Regions from separate parts of the Homo sapiens genome. Here region 1 is linked to region 2. Evidence: fine-mapped expression QTL. A gene starts in region 2. The other region holds a variant in brackets. All regions are shown on one strand. Distances are between the middles of the regions.

What was found. PIP is the estimated chance that this variant, and not a neighbour inherited with it, causes the effect. A credible set is the group of variants that fine-mapping cannot tell apart.
Region 1: its variant is the best candidate, but not a certain one, in a credible set for the expression of NIPAL4 in whole blood (TOPMed, PIP 0.89).

Annotation. Positions count from the first base shown.
Region 1 is chr5:157,481,909-157,492,028 of GRCh38, reverse strand. ADAM19 (ADAM metallopeptidase domain 19) reads left to right here. Exons shown (of 23, transcript NM_033274.5): 17 at 117-194; 18 at 306-414; 19 at 1,575-1,719; 20 at 2,843-2,927; 21 at 3,540-3,764; 22 at 10,086-10,120. Among named protein-coding and RNA genes, the nearest start is that of NIPAL4, 27 kb to the right of the region's middle. RefSeq lists a silencer at 5,311-5,400 and an enhancer at 5,068-5,568. The variant G/A (reference allele first, on the strand shown) is at 4,500.
Region 2 is chr5:157,456,751-157,464,750 of GRCh38, reverse strand. NIPAL4 (NIPA like domain containing 4) reads right to left here and starts at 4,538. Exons shown (of 6, transcript NM_001099287.2): 1 at 4,394-4,538; 2 at 1,418-1,657. The coding sequence starts at 4,430. It overlaps NIPAL4-DT (NIPAL4 divergent transcript), which reads left to right and starts at 4,651. Exons shown (of 3, transcript NR_136205.1): 1 at 4,651-4,743. RefSeq lists a silencer at 4,485-4,644.

The DNA.
Region 1 (10,120 bases), 26 kb before region 2:
TGAGCCACCAGGCCGGGCCATGGGTCCTCATATGTTCCAAGTGCAAAATCTTGCCTCCTAACTCCCAACCAGCATCCCTCCCATTGCACTGATCGTTCTGTTTTCTCTCCGTGCAGATTTGCTTTGAGGGGCAGTGCAGGAACACCTCCTTCTTTGAAACTGAAGGCTGTGGGAAGAAGTGCAATGGCCATGGGGTGCGTGCTGGGTTCTGGCTTCTCTGTGTCATGGGGACGTCATGAGGGCAGGCCCTGTGGGTGGCTGATGCTCTCTGGGGTGCTGATGCCTCTGCCCTTTCTTTGCTCCAGGTCTGTAACAACAACCAGAACTGCCACTGCCTGCCGGGCTGGGCCCCGCCCTTCTGCAACACACCGGGCCACGGGGGCAGTATCGACAGTGGGCCTATGCCCCCTGAGAGTGAGTGCCAGCCTGCTGGGGCCACTGCCCGCTTTTGTGAGAAGAGCGGGCATCAGGGGCAGGTGGCATGTTGCAGAGCATCCACATTGAATCAGCTTCATTGTCCTGATTTTGTAGAGAGGAAATCAGGATAAAGACAGACCAAGAGAGAGGAGCGACTGCTCATAGTGTGGTGTGGGGACACGGTTCAGTCTCTCTTCTCCCATCCTTTCTACTGAGGAGGGGGAGCCCGCTTAGTAGAGTGAGAGTAAGAGAGACTGTAGGTCATTGAATGTTCCCATTCTTTTTAGGGGACACGGTGACTATTTCTCTTTGGGCACTTAAAAATAATCATGAACCTGGGACACATTATGGTGGTTTAGATTTCCTCTGATGGACACAAGTTAAAATGGAGAACCAGACACTCAGAAAATTTTATAGTATTTTAGTGGATCTCTCAAGGATTCTAGCACTATGATTTCTAAAGTTTTTTTTTTAAAAAAAATAGCAAATAACTTTAAAAAAAAAGCACCAAAATCTTTCAAGGAAGAAACCCCAATATGTAAAACTGATAAAAAGTAGTGTTTTGTTAGTACAAATACGTTCTCTATATTTACATTAACCACTTGAGAGAATATTGGGGTAGTTTTGATGAAACCAAATGTTAAGTTATGGATTATGGGTGAGATGTCTAGTCTTAAATCTGTCTGAGTCTTTTCGTTTCTTTGTTTTTTTTTTTTTTTTGAGACGGAGTCTTGCTCTGTCACCCAGGCTGGAGTGCAGTGGTGTGATCTCGACTTACTGCAACCTCCGCCTCCCGGGTTCAAGTGATTCTCCTGCCTCAGCCTCCTGAGTAGCTGAGACTACAGGCATGTGCCACCACACCTAGCTAATTTTTGTGTTTTTAGTAGAGACGAGGTTTCACCATGTTGGTCAGGATGGTCTTGATCTCTTTACCTTGTGATCTGCTGACCGCGGCCTCCCAAAGTGCTGGGATTACAGGCATGAGCCACTGTGCCCGGCCCATAATGTGTGTTTTTAATTATAATTTGTAAGTTAAAATAAGTAATACAAATTAAATGCAAATCAAATGCCTGAAGAAGAAGCACGAATACCTATTTTGAAATCTGCTGTAGCCGAGACAGCTTCTAAATCTCCCACTTGGGTTCTGTTTCTGGAAGGTGTGGGTCCTGTGGTAGCTGGAGTGTTGGTGGCCATCTTGGTGCTGGCGGTCCTCATGCTGATGTACTACTGCTGCAGACAGAACAACAAACTAGGCCAACTCAAGCCCTCAGCTCTCCCTTCCAAGCTGAGGCAACAGTTCAGGTATGACAGGGTTCAATGGAGGACTCAGGGTCAATTTATGGGTCACAAAGGTCTCCATAAATGGTACTTAGCAAAAGTGTTGGTGATAGTGGGTCTAATTCAGGGAAGACAAGTGCAAGATACATGCTGCCCTCTCCCCTGCTATGACTGTGACAGGCATTACTAGTTGATCTTATTGTAAGTACTCTACTGATTCTGGTCATCACTCCTGAGTTCTTCTCAGCAGAATATCCCCAACCAAATCAAGTTGAAATATAAAATAAAATCTATTTGCCATCCTTTGTCTAGTTGATTTATTCCCCATTTTATTTTATTTATTTTTGAGATGGAGTTTCACTCTTGTTGCCCAGGCTGGAATGCAGTGGTGCAATCTTGGCTCACTGCAGCCTCCGCCTCCTGAGTTCAAGCGATTCTCCTGCCTCAGCGTCCTGAGTAGCTGGGGCTACAGGTGCATGCCACCATACCCAGCTAATTTTTTGTATTTTTAGTAGAGACGGGGTTTCACCATGTTGACCAGGCTGGTCTCGAACTCTTGACCTCAGGTGATCTGCCCGCTTTGGCCTCCCAAAATGCTGGGATTACAAGCATGAGCCACCATGCCCAGCCCCCTCTTTGTCTTTTTAACCACTGTTGCTTTAAAGTTTGTTTCATCTGGTATAAGAATAGCTACTCCTGCTCGCTTTTGGTGTCCCATTTGAAAAGTGATGTATTATTTTGGATATGGAAGATGTACAGTCTCTGAGTCACCTATTAAATAACACTTGTTCTGGAGGGGATTTTAAGTCCCAGGTCTTTCTGGATCTATGCCTGATGGGGATTGGTTGATGGCTCGTGACACCCTTGTGTCTCCTCACAGGGGAAGGGTCTTAAAAGGGTGAAGAGAAGGTGCTGAGAGAGCTCTGCTTTGTATAAGGCCAACTCTGTTTCCTTGAGAGTTCTCCATTGGCCACACGTTTTTCTACTTAGGAAGATGTGGTTCGAGAAGACCAATCCCACTCCCTCCAGAGCAGACTTGGGAAAGATTTAGCTGCTTGCTGGCCGTGCTTGGGTCAAAGGGAACTCAGGCACTGTCCCCTGCTGAACATCGTCCCCTTTCTTTTCCTCCCCCATTTCTTGTTTCTAGTTGTCCCTTCAGGGTTTCTCAGAACAGCGGGACTGGTCATGCCAACCCAACTTTCAAGCTGCAGACGCCCCAGGGCAAGCGAAAGGTAAGAGCTTTGCACCACTGAACTTTGCTACTTTTCCTTTATCCCTCAGGGCCATGCTGTATTTTTCTTTTTGAGATGGAGTCTTGCCCTGTCGCCCAGGCTGGAGTACAGTGGCGCCATCTCAGCTCACTGCAAGCTCCGCCTCCAGGGTTCACGCCATTCTCCTGCCTCAGCCTCCCAATTAGCTGGGACTACAGGTGCCCACCACCATGCCTGGCTAATTTTTGTATTTTTAATAGAGACGGGGTTTCACCGTGTTAGCCAGGATGGTCTCCATCTCCTGACCTCGTGATCCACCCGCCTCGGCCTCCCAAAATGCTGGGATTACAGGCATGAGCCACCATGCCCGGCCGCCATGCTGTGTTTTTCTAAGAGCCTCTGTGGGCCCATGGGATTGGTAATAAAAGCCCTTTTATTGGCTGGAGAGACATGTTATTTGGTTCTGACATCCCCTAATGACTTTAAAGGTTGCATCTGACTTCTGGGATCCTCAGGGGTTTAATAGATTGGTGTGTCTGTTCTCCCTTTGGGCTCTGGTTTATCTCAAAGAGACACACAAGGCCAGCCCTGAGTGATTTCTTGTCTCAGGTGTTCCTTGACTTGTGCGTACAGGTGATCAACACTCCGGAAATCCTGCGGAAGCCCTCCCAGCCTCCTCCCCGGCCCCCTCCAGATTATCTGCGTGGTGGGTCCCCACCTGCACCACTGCCAGCTCACCTGAGCAGGGCTGCTAGGAACTCCCCAGGGCCCGGGTCTCAAATAGAGAGGACGGAGTCGTCCAGGAGGCCTCCTCCAAGCCGGCCAATTCCCCCCGCACCAAATTGCATCGTTTCCCAGGTAAGTGGATAATCAGCAACCTTGGGCTGGGAACATTGCTTTTAAGGCCACTTTCAATGGGTAATGGCAAAGGTGGGGAAGGTGAAACTTGTGGGGTCATGAGCTGACTGCCTTTTCTGCAATTCAGTCAATACGGGGGCGCACAGCAGGTTAGAGCAACGAACGTGGGGAAATAGACTCTCTAAGAAGCTCCTAAACCATGTGGCATTTTCTCCCGGGTTGGCCTATTTTATGACAAGCCACTACCCACCTTCCACCCCATATTAACTTCTGTCAGTTCCCCCATGCTCGTCTGCCTGCTAGGTCTTTGTAAATGCTGCTTGTTCTGCCTGATACGCTCCTTCTCTCCTTGGTGGGGCCACCTCCTGCTCATCCTCAGATCTGCTCCTAGATGCCGCTTCTCCCAGGAAGTCTATCCTGATTCCTCAATTCTGAGGTTGATGGGACTGTACTTCTCTCATCATAGTACTCTTCCTACCAAATTGTACCTATTGGTACCTTCTACTGATTGGAAAGTCTTAGGGATGTATCCTGATGCCTTGCCCATCCCAAGGGGCAGGTGCCTCTGGGAGGTGAGAGTGGGGTCTAGACTCTCCCCCACCAGCCCTGGTGCTCTTGGAGGCATAGCCTGCCCAGCAGCCTGTTCCCACTGCGTGTGTGTGCTCTGATGGCTCTGACCACACCTTCTGCAGGAGATCCCCCAGTGCAGACACAGGTGTTTCCTGGGTGGCGGCC[G/A]GGTGGGGTGCCTTCTGGAACTGGCCTGTGTGTTTTGGGTGTGACCCCTCAACTGAGACTGCTTTCTCTGGGTGTAATCCAGAGGGCTCCATGGAACCCAAGCTGTCTCTGACCCTAAGGACTCTGGGGTTGGCTGCAGGCTTTGGAGGGTCCTTGGGATGTGTGGCAGTGGTACAGTTTGGGAAGGCTGAGGGCATCCATTCTGTTTCTCTGCTGTGAAACTGCTGCTCTCCCCTTCCTTTTATGTGGGGCAGAGGTAGGATGGAAAAATCCATGCAGAAAGAGAGGAAAGATTGACAGGGAGAGAGAAGGAAAGAGGAAAGGAAAAAAGCAAGAGAGGGGAGGAGTGGAGAGAGAGAGGTGGAGAGTGTACTCGTGTGCTGAGGGTGCTATAGCAGAGTACTGCACACTGGGTGGCTTCAAAACAGACACTTATTTTCTCACAGTTCTAGAGGCTAAGAGTCCAAGGTCAAGGTGCTGGAAGGGTTGATTTCTGAAGCCTCTCTCTGTGGCTTGCAGGTGGCCGCCCTCTTGCTGTGTTCTCACGAGGCCTTTCCTATGCACTTCTGCCTCCCTGGTGTCTGCCTGTCCAACTCTCCTCTTCTTATGAGGACACCAGATTGGATTAGGTGGCCTCATTCTATCCTAATCACCTCTTTAAAGACCTTATCTCTAAATATGGTCACATTCTGAGGTACTCAGGGTTAGGGCTTCAGCATATGATTTTTTTTTTTTAAATGATGAGTGCACAGTTCAGTCCCTAACAGAGAGATGAAAGAAAGGGAGAAAGCAGGCGTGTAGAGACTTGGGGTTACAGGAGAACAGGAGTGCCAGCAGAGGGAGGAGGGAGTGGGTCGGGCGAGCAGTCCACTCAGACTGTTGTTCTGAAAAACCCACACTAGAGGCATGTTCAGAGAACACGGGGCCAGCCTCACCCCTGTCACCCCTAGGTGCTGAGCCGTAGGTCAGGAAGTGTCAGGGACAGCGGGGACCCAGCTGTCTGTTAAGTGGTGGAGGCTGTGCATACCCTGCACCTGCACCCCTGGGACTGCTGGCAGGAGTCCCGGGTGCAGGAAGCTGCCCAGCCAGTGGCAGGCACCCCAAAACACAGCCCCCAAGCACAGCTTCTCCTGGGCCCCGGGTCCCAGGTGGGTGTCTCTCTACAAGCGAACAGTGGGAGGCAGCTGCTCTGAGTGGGGGCTGCTGTGATGACATTGGGCTGCCACCTGCCTCCTCACAGCCATTCCAAGAAGGGAGTTGCTGCAGCCCTCATTTCTCTTGGAGGTTGCCAGGCCTCATAGGATTGAAGGGACTTGCCCGACATTGCACAGTTGTGAGTGGAGGAGCTAGGACTTGAACCCAGGTCTCATCCAGCTGAGTGAGACAGCCTCCTGCCCTGGGGCCACTCACAGTCTCCAGTCTGCCATCAAAGATTCCCCACCTCCTAGCTGGGGGACATGGACCCCCTGGAGAAGTGATAGATGAAACCTCATCACTTCTTCAGTTCTGCTATTCTAAACCGGCTTATGCACCTGCACTCTGGGCCAGGCAATGACGAGGAAGGCAGATGGCAGCTTTGCCTCCAGGAGCTCACATTCTGCTGGGGCAGTGACTCTGGGATATGTGTCACTGCAACAGTGATATGTGCTGTGAAGGAGAGGCTCAGGGTGCTCAGAAGAGAGTAACGAGGATTTGACCTAATCTGGGAAATCCAGGAAGGTTTCCCTGAGGTGGTGACATTTGAGCTGAGACATGAAGGAGGAACAGGACTTAACCAGGCTGTGAGGGCAAGTGATGAAGGAGCTTTCCTGGTCCCAGGACCCACTAGTAGGGAGGCTCTGTCATGGGAGAGGGCCCTGTGGATTGAAGGAACTTAAAGGTTTGTGTGCTTGGGTCCCAAGGAGCTATGAGATGAGGCTGGAAAGCCAGGAGGAGCCCGTCTATGCCCAGGCCACATAGCCTTGGTCAGGACTTTGGTCTGTATTCCATAGGAAGAGGACAGTGGTGACATGATGCAATTTTCTGTTGACAAGGATTGATCACTCTTTGGGATATCTTTAGGCAGGAGAGAGGTGTAGTTCCTGCAAGGGGCCCATAGATGCTTCTGAAGCTGTTAATCTACTGTTTGACCTGCATGGGGATTACTTAGTGTATTCACGTTGTGATAATTCATCTAGTTGTATATTTATGATTTGTTCGCCTTTTTCTGTGTGTATTATATTTGAATTTTTAAAATAGTTTTAAAAAATGAAAGTCACTCTAGAAGCAAATGGGTGTCCTAGTTAGAAGATTTAAAGGTTGTCCTGAAGAAAGATGGTAAAAGCTTGGAGCAGGGAGTAGGCAGGGCTGATGAAGTGAAGCTGATGAGAAATGTGCAGAAGAGAAAATAGATAACGAGTTGAAGATCCATTGCTTGGCAGGGGATGACGCCCCGTGTCAGGCTTGTGCAATCTGATTGAGTAAGATGCCATCCCTTGTGGAAGGGAGCATGGGCCAGAGTAGCTGAGGGACTGTTTCTGCTCTAGAAAAAGGAAAACAGTGCTGGGCGAGGGCCCTGGTAGGGCTGAGTTGGATCATCGCAGATGTGGCCTGTGGCTGGTTGCCCTGGGAGGCCCAGTGCTGACATGCTGATGAGGCTCCTGCCCAAACTCCAGCCCCTCAGTGGCTCATTTGCACAGCTCCCTTGGGAGCACAGCCTTTCCCAGTTGCAACCTGACATCTGCACCCAGCTGTCACCTGCCCCAGAAGGTCTCTATCCTGGCTTCCAGCAACCATTGCAACTTGGCAGCTATTCTGAGCTGGGGAAGGTGGTGGTGAAGGGGGCGGGTTGTATTGTCCTTCTAGATAGAGCTGAAGAACATGGCTTTTTGGCCTTAAGAATTTGCTTTAGTTTCTGATTCCATGAAGCTTCTTGGGGAAAATCTCGGCTCTTTGTGTTATTCCTGCCCTCTCTATGTGCTTGCCTTTTGTCCACTTTAATACGTGGTAGTGACCCTCTCGAGAAGGGAAGGAAGTCAAGGGGAGCAGGCACTGGAACTCCCTTCTATGCAGTTGGCTTCCCCTTAAACCCCAACAGCTTGGGGGCCTGCGGGTGGGACAGTCATTCTTTGCCCCTTAAAAAACAATGGATCAACTAATACGTGTTGAGCACCTACTGTATACTAGGCACTGTTCTGGAAGCCAAAGATGTATCAGTGAACCAAACAGATACGGACCCCACACTGCTTCCACTCTAGAGGGGAATGGAGAGACACAAAGTAAAAATCAACTGGATAAGTAAATAAATTATATATGTTGTAAGGCAGTAAGTGATATGAAAAGAAAAGAAGAGGTATATTAGGATAAAAAGGTCAGGGAATGTCAGGGTGGGGGCTGTTGTAATTTTAAATAAGGTAGTCAGGGCAAAGCCTTGTGGAGATGGTGAGAACATGAAGGTAATAGTAACACAGGAAGGACAGAATCCATGAAATGTGCCACACACATGGACAACCAACATGAACAAAATATAGCTGCTGCTTTGTTTAAATTTTGTTTTAATCTTAACAGGCAATACACGTACATGCTCTTGTTAAAAAAAAAAAAAAAGGAATGTTCAAGGGCTGGGCGTGGTGGCTCACACGTGTAATCCCAGCACTTTGGGAGGCCAAGGCAGGCAGATCACCTGAGGTCAGAGTTCGAGATTGGCCTGACCAACATGGCGAAACCCCGTCTCTACTAAAAATACAAAAATTAGCTGGGCATGGTGGTGGGTGCCTGTAATCCCAACTACTCAGGAGGCTGAGGCAAGAGAATCGTTTGAACTCCGGAGGCAGAGGTTGCAGTAAGCCGAGATCATGCCATTACACTCCAGCCTGGGGGACAGAGCAAGACTCCATCTCAAAAAAAAAAAAAATGGAATGTTCACCTGGAACACACCCCTCCCCTTTTGCACCCCATCCCAGTGTAATCTCTTTGGTCTGTATCCTTCCTTTTTTCTGTTACAGACATTTCTATTAGGCGGTGAGCGTGCTGACTTATTTTATGTCAACTATCCTCTACAGCTTGTTTGTTCCACCTAACAACTCTTGAACATCTCCCCACGCCAGCCCCTATCAACCTACTTCATTCTTTTTAAGTGCTATATCATCTGTCACTTTATAATTTTAGTTATTTTTCTGCTGATGAAATTTTGCTTATTTATAGTTTCTTTGCTGTTACAAACAGTGCTGCAAGGAACAACCTTGCAGTTTCATTTTTGTGCACGTGTGCAAATAGTTCTCTAACATAGGTCAGAAGAAGTAGAATTACTAGATCAGAGAACAGTTATTTGTAATTTTTTTTATTATACTTTAAGTTCTGGGGTACATGTGCAGAATGTGCAGATTTGTTACATAGGTATACACATGCCATGGTGGTTTACTGCACCCATCAACCCGTCATCTACATTAGGCATTTCTCCTAATGCTATCCCTCCCCTAGCCCCCCACCACCCAACAGGCCCCAGTATGTAATGTTCCCCTCCCTGTGTCCATGTGTTCTCATTTCATGTTCATCTCCCACTTATGAGTGAGAACATGTGGTGTTTGGTTTTCTGTTCTTGTGTTATTTTGCTGAGAATGATAGTTTCCAGCGTCATCCATGTCCCTGCAAAGGACATGAACTCATCCTTTTTTATGGCTGCATAGTATTCCATGGTGTATATGTGCCACATTTTCTTGATTCAGTCTATCATTGATGGGCATTTGGGTTGGTTCCAAGTCTTTGCTGTTGTGAATAGTGCCACAATAAACATACGTGTACATGTGTCTTTATAGTAGAATGATTTATAATCCTTTGGGTATATATCCAGTAGTGGGATTGCTGGGTCAAATGGTATTTCTAGTTCTAGATCCTCCCTATTTAATAATGGTGCTGGGAAAACTGTCTAGCCATATGCAGAAAGCTGAAACTGGATCCCTTCCTTACACCTTATACAAAAATTAACTCAAGATGGATTAAAGACTTAAACTAAGACCTAAAACCATAAAAACCCTAGAAGAAAACCTAGGCAATACCATTCAGGACATAGGCATGGGCAAAGACTTCATGACTAAAACACCAAAAGCAATGGCAACAAAAGCCAAAATTGACAAATGGGATCTGATTGAACTAAAGAGCTTCTGCACAGCAAAAGAAACTATCATCAGAGTGAACAGGCAACCTACAGAATGGGAGAAGATTTTTGCAATCTATCCATCTGACAGAGGGCTAATATCCCCAATCTACAAAGAACTTAAACAGATTTACAAGAAAAAATCAAACAACCCTATCAAAAAGTGGGTGAAAGATATGAACAGACACTTCTCAAAAGAAGACATTTATGCAGCCAACAAACATATGAAAAAAAGATCATCTTCACTGGTTATTTGTAATTTTAATAGATACTGCCAGCTTGCTCTCCTGACTTCCTCTTGAGAATATAAACACATTATACATACAGTTTCTTTCTAAATGGGACCATACAGTATATAACTTTTATCTATCTGATTTTAACCTGTAAGATATCAGGGATATTTTCTTTCAAACAGGCCTCTGGCCTTCAAGTGAGGCTTATTGCTTTCTCTCCAGGACTTCTCCAGGCCTCGGCCGCCCCAGAAGGCACT
Region 2 (8,000 bases):
CAAACTTGAATGCATCATCTTCCCATAAACCTGTCCCTCCTTCTACACTCTTCATCTCAAGAAATAGCACTTTCATCACCCCAGTTGCTCAAGTCAAAAGCATGAGTCATCCTTGACTCCTTCCCCCGCCCCTCCTCCCTTGCTTGAAGCCGGTCTGTATCAAAGCTGGTAAATTCTACCTTCAAAAACTAGCTTTGGAATCCACCAGTTGTCTCCATTCCCATTTCCGTCTCCCGGGCTCAAGTTCTGTCCTTTCACTCACCTACTTGGTTTCCCAGGCTCCAGGCTTGTCCCCTAATCCGTTCTTCACCCAGCAACCAGGGATCTTTTCAAATTGCAAATTAGACTGTGTCACTCGCCTTCCTAAAACCTTTCAGTCACTTAACAATTGCACTCAGCCTCTGTACTTCCATTTACAAGACCCTTCATGAGCTGGCCCTTCACTCACCATGCACCCCTCCTGCTCCTGCCATTCTGAATGACTTTCGATTTCTAGTATCACTCAAGTTCTCTCACCTCTGAGCCTTTGCACGTGTTATTCCTTCTGCCTGGAACACTGTCTCCCTATTTCCCCTTTTACCTTGCTGTCTCCTCATAATCTAGGTCTCAGTTTAGAGATCATCTCTTCTAGAGAAACCTCCCCTAATCCCCCAAGTCTGGGCTTTACACACCCCTCCAAAATATTCCCCCATAGCAGGCTGTGTTTTCCCCATGATGGCACTTAACACATGATAAAACAACTGCCTATTGACTCATCTGTCTCTTCCACTTGACTGAAGGTTCCACGAGGACACTGAATCCCCATGTCTAGCATTGTCCCTGGCATACAGCAGGCATGTGATAAATGGTGATTAAATGAATGAGTCATTTTGCACAGGATTCCTTTTCTCAAGCACTGTTTCACGGAAAAACATCTTATTTTCCAAACAAGCAAATCCCTTGGGGTCAGACAGTTCACCATTTTTTGGCAGCCCAGAAGGGAGCTCAATTGGATGCTAAGTGAGGGCACACCAGCGTCTGACATTGTTCTGAGCAGAAGTATCTATTCCCATTTTGCAGAGAAGCTGTGACTTGCCTGTGATGACGTTGGTGGGAAGTAAGACCAAGACCAGACATGCATATCTGATTCTTGGTCCTGAGACTTGTCCCTTCCCTCCTCTAATAAACACATCATGAAGGTCTCAGGAAAGATTGGATTCTAAAGGAAGGCATCCTGTTTGCTCTCTAAACTGAGACCTCCTATTGGAGGCCTTCCTTTATAACCCTAAACCCTAACCCTGTTGGCAGGTGGGATTCCAGATAGGGTTGACAATGAGCCTTTTGTACCTTGCTGAGGCCATCCTCTTAGACTACAGCCCCGGACCTTGTGAGAGCTCAGCTGCCCTGGGCCCTATCCTCTCCTGGCCCAGGAACCTACCAGCTCGAGTGGCTCCCGTGGCCACGAGTCGCAAGAGGCCTTTCTTCTTGAGGATGACGCTGCTGCCGATGAGGAAGCTAGACAGGAATGCCAGGCCCAGGCCGATGTAGAAGCCATAGTTCTGCCTGATTCTTTCCTGCCAGCTGTGAAAGGTGGCATTGCTGGGCACCTCAGGGCTGAGGTCATTGACAATCTGGCACAGGACTTCTTGGGAGGAGCAGTAGAGGTGGAGCAGGGAACCTGGATGGGAAGACCACAGTGAGAGAGTCACACTGGGGACAATTGCACACTTTTAAAATATTGGAATTGGCCACTGTTTCAAACCCTGTGCTTCCGCTACTGCAGGGCTATACCCATATACCGTGCCTCCACCTAAAAATAATTATGTTCAGTGAGTGCTTACGCTAGTTAGGGGCTTTCTTTGCATGACCACAACAAATTTGTACCACCACGTGCCAGATAACAAACCTGGGCACAAGGGCAGACCCTCAGTCAGAAGAAGTACATAAGTTCAATGAAACTGCAAAGAATAGCCAATAATTCTTCAGTGCTACTACTCACATGGTCCTCTGCTCTGGGGTTTTCCAGGAGGGTTTCTAATGACCACTTGGAAGCAGGCACAACAATCTTTTATAGGCTTTTAGTTGAAGAAACCAAAGCTCTGATAAGTTTAGTAACCTGCCCAAAGCCAAAACATGGGTACTGAATAGTGAAGCCAGTGTCAGATTCTAAGCTTATCTGATGCCAAAGCCCAGGCTCTTAACCATCACACACACCTCAATAAAGCAGGTAGCATCTGGCCTCCTAAGAGGCTTTTTGTTTGTTTTTGTTTTTGTTTTTTTGTGTAGAGATGGGGGTCTTGCTATGTTGCAGAGGGTGGTCTGAACTCCTAGCCTCAAGCTATCCTCCTGCCTCAGCCTCCCAAAGCACTAAGATTACAGACGTGAGCCACCGTGCCTGGCCCTAAGAGGTATTTTAAAATAGAAAACATTTAAAAATTGGGAGATTTTCCATGAAAATTCAGATGGGAGGCTACGGTGAAAAATCAGATCTGCTTACCATATTGGGCCCTCTTCTAAGGCAACAACTGGCTGCAGCTGGGCAGTGTTGCCCCCTAAAATAGGACATACTCTCTGCAGTTCCCCAAGAGTCTTATCTGGCTCCTTTCAGTAATTTCTAGCACGTGCTTGGCCTTTGTAGGCATCTGAGTTTGTTACCTCTGGAGGTAGCCTTTTTCAAGCTGTGTGTCACCAAGGCCCAGGTCCCTATGCCAAGGATGTAAGCCTCAACCAAGTATTTCTCCCACCAACCTAGAACTCCCAGGCAGTGCCTGGAAGGGCCCCAAAGTCCATGGTCAAGCAACTCTGGCTCTGGCACATCTGCAGGGCAGAGTGGCATCTTGGTGGAACAGACTAAAGGCAATGTTGACCTTTCTTCCACGACACAGACCCATGAATAACAGAGCTTGAAGAGCCCTTAGAAAGCAGTCTAAATTCTTATTTTTTCTGGGGAAACTGAGGCCCTGAGAAAGGGAAGAGCTTGCTTAAGTCACCCCAACATCTGGTGAAAGATCTGGATCCAGCACCCACTGGGGCACATCCATGTGTCTTTTGCAGTGTGATATCTCTCTTTCCAAAACTCGTGTCACAATCAAGGGAAGATGAGACAAGAGGCATCTCAGTCCCTAATCAGACTTGTTCTGCACTGCTCATTCCTGTTTCTCCAGCTCAGGCTTCCTTGCCCAAGAGCTGAATCTGGGGAGTTCCCTGAGCCCAGGAAATGAGCCAGAACCTGGGAGAACATGGGCTAGGGGAGGTGACTCCTGAGAGGAAGACCAAACTCATCCCCACGCCCTTCCCCTGCTCCCTGAAGGTGCACCTCTAGCAGATGGAGCCAACGAACCCTCTGTGGATGGACTTGGCTGTCACAGTAAAGCCCGCAACACCCAAGGGCTGAGCATCCTCCATTGAGTCAAGTTCTCCCACTGCAGTGAAAAGTAAAAGACAGAGGGCTGATGGCCAAAGTAATCCAATTCTGAGCATGGGCCAGATGATTCCTGTTATCTCTTCCAGAATATGCTAGGACTGGGGAACACATTCTGGCCTAGAGAAAAGGTGAGGCTGAAAATGCCTGCCTTGTTCAGGAAACCAAAGTCAGACACCTAACAGGCTGGCTTTGAAAGCTTCACTGTAGAAGGGAAGAGGTTAGAGAAACAGGGACATGCCACAGCCTGCAGTTCCAAGACAAGGTAGGAAAGTGGAGCCACACCAAGGAAGGAGTTGAGGTTTTACTGTCCACCAGCCTTGGATCTATATTCCATTTCCTCACTGTATTACCTTGAGCAAATTATTAGCTGCTCAGAGCCTCAGTTTCTGGATCTTTAGAGTGGGGATAGCAAGATAGTAAAATAATAATACCTACCTACCTTCTAGAGTTGTTTTAAGGATTCAGTGAGATAATGCGGGTAAAGGGCCTAGTCCACTACCTGCTTTATGGTCAGAACGCAATAGGAAGTCAGGGGTCTTTCTTTACCCCTTCCTGTGGTTCTTTTTCTTTTCCAAAGACAAGACCGTCCTGTGATGGTCCTCCCATTGACCCAGAGAGAAAGCCCAAACTGCGCAGGTACTAAAACCTGAAGCAACTACACATTAAAAACACAGAATCCTCCCCCCGCCCCCACCACCTCTCAGGGTGTCTGCTGTCGTCAAAATGCCTGCCCCCCACTAACCCCCCATCTCAACCCAGGGGACATACTTTCCTTCCCTGACTCCTCTCAGCCATCCCAGCTGCGAAGATGAAAGTGAAGTCTCAGCCAGAACCCAGATCTTCAAAGCTGGGTGGGAGCCACCTCGTGCTGGCCCTGCCCCTCCCCAGCTTTGGCCCCCCTGGGAGGAGAGGATGCGAGGGAGAGCGGTGGCAAGGAGGGGAGGGCGCGAAGCGCGGAGCCCGCCTGGTCCCCAGCCCTGCCGTACGCACCGTTCTCGCAGCTGGTGTTGCTGACCCGCAGCTCCATGGGGCCCGGGGCACACGAACCGACGCGCGGGCGGACGGCGCCCGGGCTCCCCAGCTCCGGAGCAGGTGGCCGCGACTTGTCCCCCGCGTGGCTCGCGCGCGAGAAGCCGCCGGGGTCCGGACCCAGGGGTGGGGAGAGTGACGCGTCCCAGAGTGGGAGAGTCCCCGGGGAGGAGTCACCCGGCATCTTGGGCAATTCCGGGGGCAGGGGGCCCAGGGCTGGGGCCGCCCGCAGAGGGGCGCATGCCTTCCTGGGGTGAGGACGCTGCCAGGCTCCCAGCTCTGGAGTCACCGCCCCGTGCTAGGGGCAAGAGGTGAGGAGGCGGGTTCCCCGGCACCGCTCCTCCGATGCCTGCACCGGCACCCAGCTCCATCCCCAGGGAAAGAGTACAGGGGACCTAGATGGCTGGAGAAGGGGCAACTTTCCTGCCGAGGTGGAAGTGGCAACATAGGGGTTGGAAGTGGGTACTGCTGCCAATTGGGAACCTGGGTTCCTTCTTTTCCTTCCTTCTCGCCCTCCTACCCTCCCCCTCTCCTTCCTCCCCTCCACCTTTCCTCCCTTCCTTCCATTTCACCCTCCTGCCCTTCCTCCCTGCCTTCTGCCCTGCGACCTCCTTTCCTTGCCTTACCCGTTCATTGATTCAACCCAGGTCTGATCTGTGCTGGTAGGTAACAGGTACATAGTGAGTTAATGCTCAATATATATTTATGTCTAATGAATAGATAATAGGAGCTTGGTAAATTAAATGAAAGAAGGAAATGAAGTGATTGGAGACCAAAATGAGTCAGACTATTCCCTGTCCCCCAAGTACCTTATATTTTAATGGGGGAAACAAAATGTGATCATCTCTTAGAGACCAATGTTTTTGAAATTACCACTTTAAAATTATTTATACACACACACACATACACACGTTGTGATGGAAAGCATATTTGTTACTATGGGTAACAGTAAAAAGCAAGTTAGAAAACCACTGACCTGGAGCATAAAAATAGGTATGTAGAGTTTGCTATAGGCCAGGCAGAGTTCTAAGTGCTGAAAAATTCCAGTTCATTTAATCTTCATGACCGCCTTATAATGTACAGACTTTTATTATTTACCAAAAGGAAACTGAGGCACAAAGTGCTCAAGTAACTTGCTGGGGATCTCAGCTGAGAAGCAGAAAAGCCAGGATCAAACTCGTGCTGTCAGTGGTCACATTAAGCCGCCTGGCATTTTACACTGAAATAAACTGCTCCTGGGCAGTGAGGGTGTGGGGCTACTGAGAAAGCAGTGATTGGTTCTGCCAGTGGTGCTCACCGGCTTCCTGGAGGAGGCAGCTTTTAAGAATTGTTATGTATGGAGTCGTCAGCATGGGCCAGACACTGTGCTAACCCCTTTCCAGGCACTGTCTCATCGAAGCCTCCTAGGAGACAGATATCCTTACTCTTTCCATGCTACAGATAAGAGGAAACTGTTATTTTTAAAAATTTTATCATGAGATAATTTTAGACTTATAGAAGAGTTACGAAAATAGTATAGAGAGTTCCCATATACCTGTCACCAGCTTCCCTTAATGTTAACATCTTGTATAGGAATAGAAAAAACTGTCCTTTAAATACTCTGAGACACTTGCTCCCAAGGTTGCACAGCTAGTGAACGAGGGTGCCAGGTGTAAACCGAGCTGCTCTGACCCCAAGCCTGTCCTCCTACCTACGACCCTCCACTGTCTACTTGCGGACCTCTAGCTGGGCCTCTAAGGATGGGTTCTCCCAGCATGGGGCTTCCTCTAATTTGCTGGATGACTTTAAACAAGTTGCTTACTCTACATAAGGATCAATTTCTTTGTCAAATGCAACAGCCCCTTCTCCAAGGGGTCGGGATCGGGTTGGGGAAGGGAGAGGTTAAAAGAGAAAGGGAAATGTGAGACACAGCAAATGTAACAAGCCACGTTTGCTCATTTTACTTGCTGCATAATTTCACAAGCCCTTGATTCTGTAATGATGTGCACCTCTCTGGAAAAATGCTTTGAAAACAAAGCAGGATACAGCACAAGGCCCCCACAACTTTTGCCTGAGACACTATATTTCTTAAAAGATAAATGACCCTAGACCTTGCCTATTCCTACACATAGGATAATGTTTGACAAGGTTAGTGACTATGCCTCTATCATCTATAACCAGATATACTCTTGCACCCAGACTTTCATGTGATTCTGCTTTACTGTAACTTCTGAGCAAGTTTGATGTAATGTTTGAGCACATACTGCACTTCTGCTACGTGTATATCAGCTATGAGCTAAAACACTGTTTCAGAGCAGTGGGACAGGACCTCTCTGAAAGACTCCTCCCAGACTTTGTCTTCAGTCTCTAGTCCTCAGTAAGACTTCTGCTTTTTTTTTTTTTTTTTTTTTTGAGACAGAGTCTCACTCTGTTGCCCAGGCTGGAGTGCAGTGGCTCGACCTCGGCTCACTGCAAGCTCCGCCTCCCATGTTCAAGCGATTCTCCCACCTCAGCTTCCGGAGTAGCTGGGATTACAGGCGCCCACCACCACGCCCAGCTAATTTTTGTATTTTTAGTAGAGACAGTGTTTCACCATGTTAGCCAGGCTGATCTCAAACTCCTGACTTCAGGTGTTCCACCTGCCCCGGCCTCCCAAAATGCTGGGATTACAGAACCTCAGTAAGACTTCTGAATAAAACTAACTTTAATTCCTTAAAAGCTTGATTTTCTTTTAGTTGACAGAAGTCATAGCCATTGCCAACAGAATATATCCAAGTCTGCAGGTGAGTGTGCCCAGGCCCGCCTCTAACTTTGGAGGTGTGTGGTACCACCGTTCAGGTAGAGGGGAACACCTCCAAGACTATATGAATTTGAACACAGAGCAGCAAGACACTAGATGATTGGCCCTATTCGGAAGTGAGACTTCATGATGAAAAAATATATGCATCCATGCTACCTGCAAGGGAGAATTTGACAAGAGAATTCAACTTATCTTTCTCTTCTCTAAGCATTTCTGCTGTTCAGCTCCTCCTTGTGCTATAAAACGGAGTCAGCACTGAACCTGGAGTGGTACAGTCCTCAAACCCTCACTGCATTCAAACTTGACTGCTTTTATTCCAAGAACATAGGGTGAGAGATTCGGAGTATTTCCCTCTGGTCTGACCTTTTTTCTTCCTCGCTTTATTGAAGTATGACTGACAAATGAAAGTTATATATATTTAAAATGTACAACATAATGATTTGATATAGGTGTACATCGTGAATGATAACGACGATTAAGCTAATTAATACATCTATCACCTCACTTAGTTATATTGTGCGTGTGTGTGCATACATGCGTGTATGTTGAGAACACTTTAAATAGTGGCTTCTCTTAGTGGCCTTTTTGAATCACAAGAGAGGATGTTTCAGATTGTAGTTGCCAGAGCTAAGCCCAGATCCTGAGAGACAGATGCACATATATGTTCTTTAATGCATTTATTTTTGTATGTGTTTGTGATTTGTGGAACCTCTAAATTTTAGGGTCAGGGAAGGGGCCTCCTTGTCAGGGGTTAAGGGCAATATTGAGTTTATCCTATGCTTCAAGACC